4 linked regions of the Homo sapiens genome follow. The protein of the gene in region 1 purifies or fractionates together with the protein of each later gene. This does not show direct contact. Each region holds a gene or a part of one and is shown in the gene's direction. Other genes may lie near its edges.

The links. Proteins that work in one complex are often made in the same cells at the same time.
Region 2: the proteins of NIFK (region 1) and PUM3 purify together in Homo sapiens (affinity purification with mass spectrometry; 4 studies listed by BioGRID and IntAct, with this or other methods). This does not show direct contact.
Region 3: the proteins of NIFK (region 1) and RBM28 purify together in Homo sapiens (affinity purification with mass spectrometry; 4 studies listed by BioGRID and IntAct, with this or other methods). This does not show direct contact.
Region 4: the proteins of NIFK (region 1) and RPF2 purify together in Homo sapiens (affinity purification with mass spectrometry; 4 studies listed by BioGRID and IntAct, with this or other methods). This does not show direct contact.

Annotation. Positions count from the first base shown.
Region 1 is NC_000002.12:121,726,876-121,730,375, reverse strand, and holds the end of NIFK (MKI67 FHA domain-interacting nucleolar phosphoprotein), read left to right. Parts: intron 1-1,815; exon of another isoform or gene 1,816-1,839; coding exon 1,840-1,899; exon of another isoform or gene 1,900-2,019; coding exon 2,020-2,088; exon of another isoform or gene 2,089-2,463; coding exon 2,464-2,652; 3' UTR 2,653-3,431; downstream 3,432-3,500.
Region 2 is NC_000009.12:2,806,096-2,809,595, reverse strand, and holds part of PUM3 (pumilio homolog 3), read left to right. Parts: intron 1-1,691; coding exon 1,692-1,782; intron 1,783-3,500. UniProt on the Homo sapiens protein: Inhibits the poly(ADP-ribosyl)ation activity of PARP1 and the degradation of PARP1 by CASP3 following genotoxic stress. Binds to double-stranded RNA or DNA without sequence specificity. Involved in development of the eye and of primordial germ cells.
Region 3 is NC_000007.14:128,337,409-128,340,908, reverse strand, and holds part of RBM28 (RNA-binding protein 28), read left to right. Parts: intron 1-1,117; coding exon 1,118-1,276; intron 1,277-1,587; coding exon 1,588-1,682; intron 1,683-2,107; coding exon 2,108-2,183; intron 2,184-2,566; coding exon 2,567-2,659; intron 2,660-3,500. UniProt on the Homo sapiens protein: Nucleolar component of the spliceosomal ribonucleoprotein complexes.
Region 4 is NC_000006.12:111,020,038-111,023,537, forward strand, and holds part of RPF2 (ribosome production factor 2 homolog), read left to right. Parts: intron 1-3,500. UniProt on the Homo sapiens protein: Involved in ribosomal large subunit assembly. May regulate the localization of the 5S RNP/5S ribonucleoprotein particle to the nucleolus.

The DNA of each region.
Region 1 (3,500 bases):
TTTTTAGTAGAGACGGGGTTTCTCCTTGTTGGTCAGGCTGGTCTTGAACTCCTGACCTCAGGTGATCCGCCCGCCTCGGCCTCCCAAAGTGCTAGGATTACAGGCGTGAGCCACTGCACCCATCCTTTTTTGTTTTGTTTTGTTTTGTTTTGTTTTTTGAGACAGAGTCTTGCTGTGTTGCCCAGGCAGGCTGGAGTGCAGTGGCACAATCTCAGTTCATTGCAACCTCCACCTCCCAGGTTCAAGCAATTCTCCTGCCTCACCCTCATGAGTAGCTGAGATTACAGGTGCGTGCCACCATACCCGGCTAATTTTTTGTATTTTTAGTAGAAATGGGGTTTCACCATGTTGGTCAGTCTGGTCTCGAACTCTTGACCTCAGGTGATCCATCCACCTCAGCCTCCAAAAGTGCTGGGATTACAGGTGTGAGCCACCATGACTGGCCTGACTAAACTTTTGAAACATTCCATTGTAGGTTCTTCCTAAAACATTATGAGACCAGATTCTGTTATTTCTATTATACAGAAGAGGAAGCTTCTTTTAAGGAGATAATCTGATTTGTTTAACTTACATGTTCTGTTTTAAGTTACTGAAGTAAACCCACTATTTAACTAAAGACTGTAATACTCTTAGATTGCCATTTATTAGCCAGTTGAGGTAGTGTGTGCCTGTAGTCCTTGCTACTCAGGAGGCTGAGGCAACAGGATCTCCTGAGCCTAGGATTTCAAGTTTGCAGTGAACTGTGATTGTACCATTGCACTCCAGCCTCAGCAACAGAGCAAGACCGTATCGCTAAAAAAGAAAAAGATTGTCATTCAGAGGTGACACTGCCAGAATTAAGTCTTTGGTTTACTGTATGCTATAAGTAGATACCAAAACACTGACCCTTTCCTCCATCTGTCACAGTGAGGAGAGCTATGTCTTTTATTATAGATCAAGAATGAAGCTTATTATGGTATGGCTAGTATAGGTAAAGGTCTCATTCTTTTCTTTTTTTTTTTTTTTTTTGAGATGGAGTCTCCCTCTGTTGCCCAGGCTGGAGTGCAGTGGCACTATCTCAGCTCACTGCAACCTCCGCCTCCCAGGTTCAAGCGATTCTCCTGCCTCAGCCCCCACGAGTAGCTGGGACTACAGGCACACACCACCACACCCAGCTAATTTTTTGTATTTTTTTTAGTAGAGATAGGGTTTCATCACCATGTTAGCCAGGCTGGTCTCGAACTCCTGACCTCATGATCCACCCACCTTGGCCTCCCCAAGTGCTGGGATTGTAGGCGTGAGCCACTGCGCCCAGCCAATTTACTAGGTTTTTAACCTTATCCAGAAACTAGATGACCGTGTTACCCTCCTTTGCCTCAATTCTCGGTGGTTAATTTTTTGCCCAAATCCCAAATACTGTCTTTAATAGTATTAGAATATTTCGCCAAGGCCTTAGGCCCTGGTACTCTTGTGAACCATTTGGGAACTGAGACAGTGAAACTTGAAAAGAGGCATGTGAGCACTGCTTTTCCTGTACCCTGTTTGTGACTTAGGAGATGGGGGTGGCCTGCCTTTGCACATTCTTCCTGCTTCCACCCTCCTGAATTCAGGATTCTGTGAATCAGTGAGCTCCAGGTTTTGGCCTTCCCTTCAACCTCTGCAGCTCTGTCAATTCCTCTACTGGGTTTTTCCTAGTTTTGCCCTTTACTTGAGATAATTCACTGTATTTATGAGTTTTGATTTTTTAAAATGAAATGCTCTTGTCATTTAGGGAGGATTTACTGATAATATATATGAGGATCTAATGCTAAGTTTAGAAAGAAAAGATATGAGTGTCAATTTCTAACTTCTTTATTAAAGATTTTACAGAAAACGGAAAGTATTTCAAAAACTAATCGTCAGACGTCTACAAAAGGCCAGGTAAAATTTTTTTTATCATTTTACATGCAAGATATTAGAGAAGGATAAGTAGGAAAACATATTCAAGACTACTGTAGCTGATCAATATTCAAATTGATGTGTTTTAAAATTTATTTTAAGGTTTTACGTAAGAAGAAGAAAAAAGTTTCAGGTACTCTTGACACTCCTGAGAAGACTGTGGATAGCCAGGTAAAATGGTTTTCAATACTCCAGACACCAGATATTATAGAAATAATTTGAAGGAGGAGAAGCAGTTTCTGCTACTCTCATTTTAAGATTTCAAATTAAATATTGTGACATTTGGTAGATCTTTATTGTTGATTTAGCAATTTTCTGCCTAAAACCTTATAATGGAACATGCTATATTTGTTAATTGTGAATTTCTGTACCAAGTTTGATAAGCATCTAAGTTCTTTATTCTTTGCAATAGTATCACCAAAAGATGGTAACAGAGCTAAAATAATGGGGCACAACTTGTAAAAATAGAGGAGAGATGATATTTTTGGGTAAAGTCATAATCATGTTTTACATTTATGTATTATAATCTTTACTTGTTGAATCCAGGGCCCCACACCAGTTTGTACACCAACATTTTTGGAGAGGCGAAAATCTCAAGTGGCTGAACTGAATGATGATGATAAAGATGATGAAATAGTTTTCAAACAGCCCATATCCTGTGTAAAAGAAGAAATACAAGAGACTCAAACACCTACACATTCACGGAAAAAAAGACGAAGAAGCAGCAATCAGTGATTTTCAATGTATTATATTTCTTTTGAAAAATATAATATTTTTATGAGAGTGGACTTTGTATTTCACTAGGTACAATGGAATACAACCTTTGACAAGATTTTCAGAGGAAAAATACACTGTTTGGTCAAGTTAAGGAAAGCAGTGTGTAATTTTGGATTGCCTGCCCTTGGCTGAAATACAGGGGTGCATACCATCTTGCAGTGGCTTGGCTGACATTGCCTCTTTGTCCTGGCCTCTAGTTTTCTTTTGATATTTCATAGCTCTCCTTAGTTTACTCTGCCTGGATAGAAAGTTGACCACTAACTGCAGGTTTAAGTACTAAACTGCAGCCTTTTCTGTCGCCAGCAATTAAAGACCACCAATCTTGTTTGTCCATCTACATGGTTTGTCGGGGACATTTAACTCATGGAGGTGCTTTAGATTTCAACATCAGATGGTTGAAGCTGGAAGTTTAATTATATGTAGAGTGAGAAGGCAGTTCCAGTTTTAGCACAGATTTGTTTATGTGTTCAGATTTTAATAGAGATTCAAAAATGACTCATTTTTACCAATAATGTTAAATTAGTTTTGGTTGTGCTAGCATGAATTAATAACCACCATTTTATACCAGTATCATCAGTGAAGAATTGTATTTCAAGATTCAAACAATAACCAGCAATTAAACTTTTTTCTACAATGTATTTGTTTGCGAGTAGGACTTGGGAGTCATTGGGAAAAAAAAATAATAAATTTTCCCCTTCATTAACGAATTCAGACTCATTAAAAACATTGCCATCAGATGTAGTAGCTTGTGCCTGTAATCCCAGCACTTTGGGAGGCTGAGGCAGGAGGATCACTTAAGGCTAGGA
Region 2 (3,500 bases), on another chromosome or scaffold:
ATCATGAATTCATGTCTTGCGGCAAGTGGCAGCTCTGATGGCTAGTGTGGCAATCAGTATAGCAGTAGAGCTGTCACTTCTCACCTTACCTTTAAGAATGGGGACCTGGGGCTATTTTTCACTAAATTTTTTTGTAAAAGAGAAGCCTTGTGATAAATATTAAAGAAAAAAATAACATATGGAATAATCTTTTTCATTATTAAAAAGTTGATGTATAGTTGAGTTTATGCCAGAAAAGTAGTCTGGCTTAATGTCCAGTGGTTTTTCTCCCTCTTAATTAAAATGTGCTGAGAACCCTAAAATCTGCCAGTTTGGGTCTGATGTGTTTGTCTTGTCGTATTCAGCACCAAATGAGTTTGTCCTCCTGCACGTCTAGCTGTTTTGATTCTCTTTTACTGGATAGTAGCCACCTTAAAACTTAGTAGTTTTCAAAACAATGACTTGATCAGGGTCTGGTGGAGCCTGCCCCTCTATGCTCAGAGTCAGAGTCATCTAGGGCTGCTCGGTTTGTGGTTGGAGTGTCCACTTTTCGCTTAGCTCACTCACATGGCTGGCAAGTGAGTACTGACTGTTGGCTGGGGACCAACAGCCTCAGTTTCCCTTTCTAGGCTGCTTGGGCTCCTTCACGAGATGGTGGTTGCTTTTTTAAGAGTGAGCATCCCAAGAGGACAAAGTAAATGCGTGGCACTTCCATGATTTATCCTTAGCAGTCATTTAATGCCACTTTCATCATACTGTCTTGGTCAAGTCAATCACAGAGGCCCACTGTGATTCAAAAGAAGACATGGATTCCCCCTATAGATGGGGGAGTGGCTGCATTCTAGAAGAGCACACAGGACAGGAGATATTATTGTGGTCAGCTTTGGAAAACAATTTGCCTCACTAGCTGAACTCTGTCCCTCTTTAGCAGGTACCATGAAAGGCTGAATAGCCATAGGCCTCTTGGCTTTTAAAGAGTCCTTACATTCAGGTATCTTTGAATGAATTATATAGTACATGCTACCTGACTATGATGTTTGCCTTCAAGATAGGTTGTCCCTACCTCCATCTGCACTAAATCTTAGCTATCAGAATTTCTCCTTTGTCCAAGCATTAATTGCAAAGTGAAAAAGATAATACCACGACCTTGGGAATCAAATACTAGAATAACGGGAGAAAAATGGTATTTTTGATTTGTGAGTATGTAAGCGTTGTAAAGAGAAATGCCAAGTTTAAGCTAGAACAGTCATTTATCAACCACTGTTGAACACGTGAACACTGTGTTATGTTCATGGCACCTTGTGAGTGAGCATTTCTCCATGAGGAAGAACTTGATTTCAACCAAGCATGAGGTGCTACTGTGAAACATTTATTTCCTGAATAGCTTTCAGGTCAAAGTTAAATCATTAAATAATACAAAGAAGTGCAGACATAACCAAGTGAGTGTTTTATTAGAATTCATAGTTTATCTTGAGTAATTACTGCTAAACATAGCTTAGGTTTTGGATCAGAGTTAAAAGAAATGGCTCTTTTAGAAATGCATTAGATAAACCTGCACTGGAATTTTTTGTGTTAAAAGGGAGATTGGGTGAAAGCTACTTTTGTTAGCTTTTTTGTTTAAAAATATTTGCAGATTTAAGGGCAGTAGAGAAGGGGGTAGGGAGTATATATCTTATTATGTGATGTTCACTAAGCTTCAGTATATTTTACAGGTTGTTTTGCAAAAACACTTGTAGAGCATGTTGGTATGAAGAACCTGAAGTCCTGGGCTAGTGTAAATCGAGGTGCCATTATTCTTTCTAGGTATGTATAACATGTGCCCTTCTCTGAGCAGGGCCTGGTCATGCAAAAGACACACTTCCTTCACGTTGATTTCTCAGTTCTAATATTTGTTCTCAGTAGTCTAATATTACTCCCAGTCACTCATGGTCTAGACAAACATACCAAATATTAGAAAGCAAATGTAACTCTTTCAGTCAGTCCTTAGGAATCTTTTTTTTTTTTTTTTTTTTTTTTGAGATGGAGTCTCACTGTCACCCAGGCTGGAGTGCAGTGTCACGATCTCAGCTCACTGCAGCCTCAACCTCCTGGGCTCAAGTTTTCCTCCCATCTCAGCCTCCTGTGTAGCTGAGACTACAGACGCATGCCACCACACCCAACTAATTTTTATTTTTTTATTTTTTGTAGAGATGGGGGTCTCCCTGTGTTGGCCAGGCTGATCTCAGACTCTTAGGCTCAAGTAGTCCTCCCATCTTGACCTCCGAAAGTGCTGGGATTACAGGCATAGCCATTGTGCTTGGCCCTTAGGATTTTTAAACTACCATCTTTTTGACAAATTATAACATTCACAAGGTATCAGGTGGCTTCACCACATTTATGGTTTTGACCAAAACATAATTTTTTTTTTTTGAGATGGAGTCTCACACTGTCGCCCAGGCTGGAGTGCAGTGGTGCGATCTCAGCTCACTGCAAGCTCTGCCTCCTGGGTTCATGCCATTCTCCTGCCTCAGCCTCCTGAGTAGCTGGAACGGCAGGTGCCCGCCACCACGCCCAGCTAATTTTTTTTATTTTTAGTAGAGACCTGGTTTCACCGTGTTAGCCAGGATGGTCTCGATCTCCTGACCTCGTGATCTGCCCACCTCGGGCTCCCAAAGTGCTGGGATTACAGGCATGAGCCACTGTGCCCAGCCTGTATTTTTTTTAATGAATAACTTACATCCCTGTGAAAACTGTGACAATGTTGACTTTTAAATCATGCCTAATTCTACATGTAATTTCCTTCATTGTTTTAAAAGATTGTAAAAGGATTGGAAGAGCATTTGCTACTGAAGTGTGTGTGCTATTTGTTGATATCTGACTTAAAATGAGAAAAAAACAGTGATGAGCTATGGCCTCTTTTGTATTATTCTCTGAACTTAGTTGAGTTTATAATCAATCCACAAATCATTGAAATTTTCCATACATTCTCTGTGCAGATGAAAACCTTCTGTTAAGAGCATTCATTTAAAAAAAGATTTGTATGTTGCTTTGAAGCAATTACTGTTGATTTTTCCCCTGCTGTGTTATTAAGGTTTGGGAAAACAGATACCAACCCTAGTTTGAATTTCTCAAGATACTTTACTTGCAACATGCTATGCAACTTAATCTATGTTGTTTGTAAATGTTATTTTAAGTGTTTCTTCAACATATACGTGATCTGGTACACATAATACTCACACAGGAGCATTCATAGCTTCAGGTATGTCAGTGTCTCCAAATATATAAGTGTTACAGATCATTTTGTTCATTTCTGCTTAAAATTAGTTAATTTTCCAGTTGATGTTAAACAGTCAGAATTCGTTAGCTGATACATGAACTTTTTCATTACAAATTTTTTTACCAGGCATTTGGAGTGTTAACACCTACTGACACATTCTTTCATTACACTCAATTAACTGGAAATTTCAGCAATGCCATGAAATTAATTTATAAAGGTTGTTCATCAATCAGAACTCCCATTAGGTGGATTTCAAACATAGGAA
Region 3 (3,500 bases), on another chromosome or scaffold:
ACCCTGTGTGACATTAACCAATTCACTTACTGTCTTCCATCTCAAATTACTTACTTGGAAAGAAGGGGTGATAATATTTGCTTTACCTATTTTGAGGTGTTCTAAAGATAAAATGAGACAAGAATGCACAGCTGCTTTGGAAAGGTTTAATTTGATATCGACAGCTAAGGCGTTGGTAATAGTGGTCATAACATCTGCAGTCTCTCTGAGCAGTATTTATTGTTTGAGGTTCTTTTGTCTGGGCCTCAGGCATTTATTGCTGATCTATTTTGAGGAGTAACTGCATTATTGTGTTCTGATTTTTGAAGCTACCATACTGTCTTAATTCATTTTCTGTTGCTTATAAGAGAATACCTGAAACTAGGTACTTTGTAAAGAAAAATTTATTTCTTAAGTTCTGGAGGCTGAGAAGTCCAAAGTTTAGTGGCTGTATCTGGTGAGAGCCTTCTTGTTGGTGGGGACTCTGCAAAATGCCCAGACAGTGCAGGGTGTCATGGCGAGGGGGCTGAGCATGCTAATGTGCTTGCTCAGGTCTCTCTTCCTCTTCTTATAAAGCCCCCAGCTCCACTCTCATGATAGCCCATTAATCTATTAACCCATTAATCCATAAATTGATTAATCCATTCCTGAAGACAGAGTCCTCTGATCCAGTCACCTCTTAAAGACTCCACCTTTCAATACTGCTACATTGGGGATTAAGTTTCCAACACATGAAATTTGGGGGACACATTCAAACCATAGCATATACTTACCTTTCCTGCCTTCTTTGGTGATGTTTTGTTCTTTTTGATGTTGAGTTCTTTGAGGGCCTCATATGTCATGGATTCTCTGTTTTCTTGGGATTATCAAGAAAGGGGGAAGAAGGGGAGCTAACAGCAAAGACACTAAATTAAAAGAGGAGGAAGGCTAACAGTTTCTAAGCAAAGTGGGGAGGGAACCACTGATACCACCCTTGTTTCTCGCCCTCCTGAGACTTTTGGCAAACTGATAGCAAGATGGGTTGGCAGTATATCCTCTAGCTTAGGCTTTGAGGATTTACTCATTTAGTGCTCTTGGCTTATGATTCTCTCTCCTTTTCACACTGCCCCTCCACTCCCTCCCCACTCCATTATTCCAGGGAGTAAGGCATGTCGAGGCTTTGGCTATGTCACTTTTTCAATGCTGGAAGATGTTCAGAGGGCCCTCAAGGAGATTACCACCTTTGAAGGTTGCAAGATCAACGTGACTGTTGCCAAGAAAAAACTGAGGAACAAGACAAAGGAAAAGGGGAAAAATGGTGAGTTTCTAGTAATTGAAGGAAGTTTTTCTCCCAGGGTGAGGAGGAGCACTATGAAAATGAAAGAGGGAGGCATGGAGGTAGCTTCTAGAACTTAAAGCTTTTTGCATTTCTTTTTGATCTCCAAAATCATCCAGTGTATTGTGATACTCATTTTAGTTCTTTGGAAAAATCTGGTATTCCTTGGTATTATTGCCACACTTAACCCTGTGGTAAATGCCATCTGTCGCCAGTAGCTTTTTTTTCTGTGATGTTCTGGCGTAGAAGTGGGTGATTTTCGAGTACTTATTCCATTACCTCTTATTTTTTAGAAAACTCAGAGTGCCCAAAGAAGGAGCCGAAGGCTAAAAAAGCCAAAGTGGCAGATAAGAAAGCCAGATTAATTATTCGGAACCTGAGCTTTAAGGTAAGTGAGAGAGAAAATGAACATTGCATGTTTTGAAGGCTTTTAGAGCCAAGATGTGATCATTAGTAGAACTCCTCACCAAGATGGTATAATTGGGCTTAATTCCTTCTGGGAATCAACCTTACCCCTGTTGAATTCAGAAAGTGGGCCTGTGTAATAAGGGCACTAAGTGTGAAGCTGCTTTCCTTTTTGGGGAAACTACTACTGAGAAAGAAAAGGTAGAAAAAGTTCTCAGACGTCTGTGTTTTTGCCTCTTAGGTACAAAGTAAAATGTCTTCTATTTAGAAACATTTGATGTCCTAGTATCAAAAATAAAAAAAAGTAAACATTCATGTTTTTCATAATTAATGAATTTAGTAGTTGATGTTTTATGTTAATTTGCTGTGATTGTGTTTCTCTTTTTCTTTCTTCACTTTTGGCTTCAGTGTTCAGAAGATGACTTGAAGACAGTATTTGCTCAATTTGGAGCTGTCCTGGAAGTAAATATCCCTAGGAAACCAGGTACTAATAAACCTTCACTTGGTGTGGATTACGTTAGTTAACATATTACCCTTGAACAAACATATATGATATATATGAAGTATTTGGCACAGTGCTTCACATCTAATGAAAACCCAAATAATGGTTTTATTCCCCTGATGATATTTTCTGTTGGATCAGAATTAGTTTTAGAAGGCGAGTTAGTTTGAGAAAGTGTTTTGCTCTCCCCAAGTCCAAGTCAGAGTATACTCAGTAAGAAGATGTAAGCAATTGCTTTGGGGAAGGGCCTGACCTGCTGGCAGAATTTGGGCCATCTTGTGGGCCTGAATTGCAGTAATTTACTTCTTAGTATTCTGGCTACCTCCTGCTGCCTCTCACTTCTTTCTTTGTGCATTTGCACACAGATGGGAAGATGCGCGGTTTTGGTTTTGTTCAGTTCAAAAACCTCCTAGAAGCAGGTAAAGCTCTCAAAGGCATGAACATGAAAGAGATAAAAGGTAAGCTTTCTATACCCATATCATTGACCCAGATATTTCTGGTGTTTTGGTGAATTAGTGTAGTAACCCACTTTCTGCATTTTCAAAAGATGTTTGCATTATTAAGAGTCTCATTGCTAATACGGTAGCTATTTAGGTGAAATACTCTAGAACTTGATCTTGGGGTTAAACTTGAAAGAACCCTTGCCAGTATTCTTTCTTTTATCTGGTGAGAGTGTCCTTTTAAATCCCTAGTGAAAAATGTCCCTGAGATAATTGCTGATAGATGCAGGTTGGTATCTAGATTCCTCCTTGGTTATATCACTGTTCAGCATCTGTGGGCTATTTATTAAACTGACTGTGATTTATATATTGACTTATCAAGTACTGTGCCTAAAGAAGTTATTGCCGGCCAGGTGCGGTGGCTCACACCTGTAATCCTAGCACTTTGGGAGGCCGAGGAGGCAGGTGGATCACCTGAGGTCAGGAGTTCAAGACCAGCCTGGTCAACATGGCGAAACCCCGTCTCTACTGAAAATACAAAAATTAGCCAGGTGTGGTGGTGCATGCTTGTAATCCCAGCTACTCAAGAGGCTGAGGCAGGAGAATCGCTTGAACCTGGAGGCGGAGGTTGCAGTGAACTGAGATGGCACCACTGCACTCCAGCCTGGGCGACAGAGCGAGACTGTGTCTCAAAAAAAAAAAAAAGAAGTTATTGCCGTAGAGATGTCCTAGCTTCCAGGTAGGGTGCAGATGATTCCAGAATGCCTGTTTTGATTCCTGATAGTCTAACTGGAAACATAGTTCTAATTCTTTATTTTTTTACTCCATCTTATCCCAGGTGTGGTGGCTATGTAGAAAG
Region 4 (3,500 bases), on another chromosome or scaffold:
CCAAGTAGCTGGAACTACTGGCACCCGCCACCACGCCCGGCTAATTTTATTTTTGTATTTTTAGTAGAGACAGGGTTTCACCATGTTAGTCAGGATGGTCTCAATCTCCTGACCTCGTGATCTACCTGCCTTGGCCTCTCAAAGTGCTGAGATTACAGGCATGAGCCACCGCGCCTGACCTGGAACACTTCTTTTTTTGAGGCAGGATCTTGCTGTTGCCCAGGCTGGAGTACAGTGGCATCATCTCAGCTCACTGCAACCTCTGCCTCCCGCATTCAAGCGATTCTCCTGCCTCGGGTGGGTATGTATGCCCTCTGTGTTAAACATAGAGGGGATACAAGGGAGATAAAAATATAACGGTAAAAAATCATTGACAGTAAGAAATGAGTGGTAACAGTAGCCTAAAACTCTTCTGTGTTGAACGGTTTCGCAGAAAGTATTCACTTGTATTTAGTGAAAAGGGTTTATTTGTAAAGAAAGATACAGAGAAAATAAAACAAAATAGAGAATTATCAAGTCAGACTTTAGAGCAAGAATAAACTGGCCCAGCGTGGTGGCTCATGCCTGTAATCCAGTACTTTGGGAGGCCAAGATGGGTGGATCACCTGAGGTCAGGAGTTTGAGACCAGCCTGGCCAACATGGTGAAACCCCGTCTCTACTAAAAATATAAAAATTAGCCGGGCAACATGGTGTGCACCTGTAATCCCAGCTACTCAGGAGGCTGATGCAGGAGAACCCGGGAGGCAGAGGTTGCAGTGAGCCAAGATCGCACCACTGCACTCCAGCCTGGGTGACAGCGAGACTCCATTTCAAAAAAAGAGAAAAAAAAGAATAAACTAGCAGTAAGGCCGGGCACGGTGGCTCATCCCTGTAATCCCAGCAGCCCTTTGGGAGACTGAGGTGGGCAGATCACGAGGTCAGGAGATCGAGACCATCCTGGCTAACACGGTGAAACATCATCTATACTAAAAATACAAAAAATTAGCTGGACATGGTGGCGCATGCCTGTAATCCCAGCTATTCAGGGGGCCAAGGCAGGAGAATTGCTTGAACCACGGAGTCGGAGATTGCAGCGAGCCTAGATTGTGCCACAGCACTCCGGCCTGGTGACAGAGCAAGACTCTGTCTCAAAAAAATAAAAATAAAAACAAAAATAAAAAACTAGCAGTGTAACTATAATACATAGATCCACCAAAAATCTGATTGCTAGAATCACCTTTACACTAGCACGACATCTTTCATAATGAAAAAAAGTTTGAAATTTTAAAATCAGAGACCCTAGTATGTAATTTTGATCACTAGATGTTCCATATGTGCCTTGTAATACTTGTTAGCTATTAATTTGAAATAAAAAATGGACACTGTGATTGAGAGTGAGCTGCTACTTGAAAGAATCACTAAACATGTGGATCAGCTTAGCTTCCAGAGGCTGTGCCACACTTGGGGAGCATTGAGGATGGGAGGAAGGGGTGGTCCAGGGATTCAGCATCACCTCTGAGCCTACTGACCTGGCTCTGAGCTGGGCTCAGCCACGTGACATGGGCAGGTCACCACTTCTCAGGGTCTTTGTTTCTTCCTCTGTAAACTATAGCAATACCATTTAGATAATTCTGAGGTCCCCCTAAGATTGACAGTACTGCTTTATAAGAGTAAAGGGGTACTCATAGATGGGCATATACCAGAAAGTATGTCTGACTTAACTTGGCTCCCCAGGCATTCTTTGGGCTAGCTATACTGTGGAACCCTTTCCCTCGCTCTTACTGCAAATTAGCCCTTATGCAATTTGAAAATGGTAATATTTAATATTCACACACTTTATTTGTGAAGATAAATGAGGTTTATAAAATGGTTTTGAGCTTTTTGGATGAAAGGAACTCTAAACAGGAAATTATATTAATATAACCTTTAACATGATCTTTTGGGTGAATAAATCATAGTGTTATTGACCACTGTTCCTATACATCCTATAGTAATTATTCCTTGTATGTGAGTGACTATTTATATCCGTTGGGAAATTTTATTCACTATGGAGTCAGAGCCATTAATATGAAACAAAATCGTTAGTAATGCCACATGTGCCTTTGCACAATGGTTAGGCCTTATGGGGGGAAATATGCAAAACAAAGTGGTAGCATACTTTGAAAAGCAAACATAACATTCTAATTGAGGAGTTTACTTAATGAAAACAGACTTTCAGCCAGAGAAGTGTATGAGAGGGAGAAAAATGAGGAAATTACAATTTGAACAGTAGTGGTAATGTCACTCTTCCTCAAGAAATAGACAAATAATATTTAAAAATATGTAGAAATTACCAGTTAGCATATCTACCAGCTTGAGCCCATCTGAGAGAGAAAGAACTGGGTTCTGTTTGCAGATAACTAAAAGCTAGAGAATATTTCCTTAAATCAGTTTGATCTTCCAGTAAACATACTCACTGAAATGATTAAGATCAGATCATCTACACAGAAAAGTATGACATTGTACTTAATTCTTTAATGAAATAACAACATAGGTAATTATACATAGTTATTTGGAAATCTTAATTTTATGTACCACTCAAAAAATTCATTAGGACGCTTGTGAATAAAAAGGCACAATATTAAATTATTATATGCACCCTGAAACTATGTACATCTATTATGCATCAATTTTAAAAATTATTTTTAGTTAATTAAAAGGTGCTTCAGTTAATTAAAAGGTGCTTTTGGCAGTGTATAGTAGTACTTGGGTGATTTGAATCTATCGGATATGCCATGAGCTGTTTTGAATTGACAAGTTTTCTAACTAGCTGAAAATTAGCAGTTTTAAGTGGAAGAAAAAATTTTAGTTGAAAATTAAAATACATGTCCCTGATTTCTTTTTTTGTTTGTTTGTTTTTGAGACGGAGTCTCGCCCTGTCGCCCAGACTGGAGTGCAGTGGCGCGATCTCGGCTCACTGCAACCTCCGCCTCCTGGGTTTAAGCGATTCTCCTGCCTCAGCCTCCCGAGTAGCTGGGACTACAGGCATGTGCCACCACGCCTGGCTAATTTTTTGTGTCTTTAGTAGAGATGAGGTTTCACCATGTTGGCCAGCTGGTCTGGAGCTCCTGACCTCAGGTGATCTGCCTGCCTTAGCCTCCCAAAGTGCTGGGACTACAGGCGTGAGCCACCACGCCTGGCTGCTCCACCATCACTTTATCCTGCCTGTATTCCCCAGTTCTCCTCCACCAGTGTTTCCAGATCCAGAGCTGTTTAGACATAGGGTATTCAGAAAGTTGTGGTTTTGTTATTTTAAGATTTTAAAGTTCACTTCAATGTAAGGAAGTTAGTAAATGTCTGTGCTATGAGGAAAAGTTGATTCTGAATGGGTTGGTTTAACTCCTACAGTCTTAGATAAGAACTTGTTAATCGTATAAACATACTGTTTCAAAGAAAAAGCCAATTATAATTACTTTTATACATACATAAATCTATGAGTAAGATGAAGAAGTCAAATCAAAGGATTTTATTTCATTTCTGA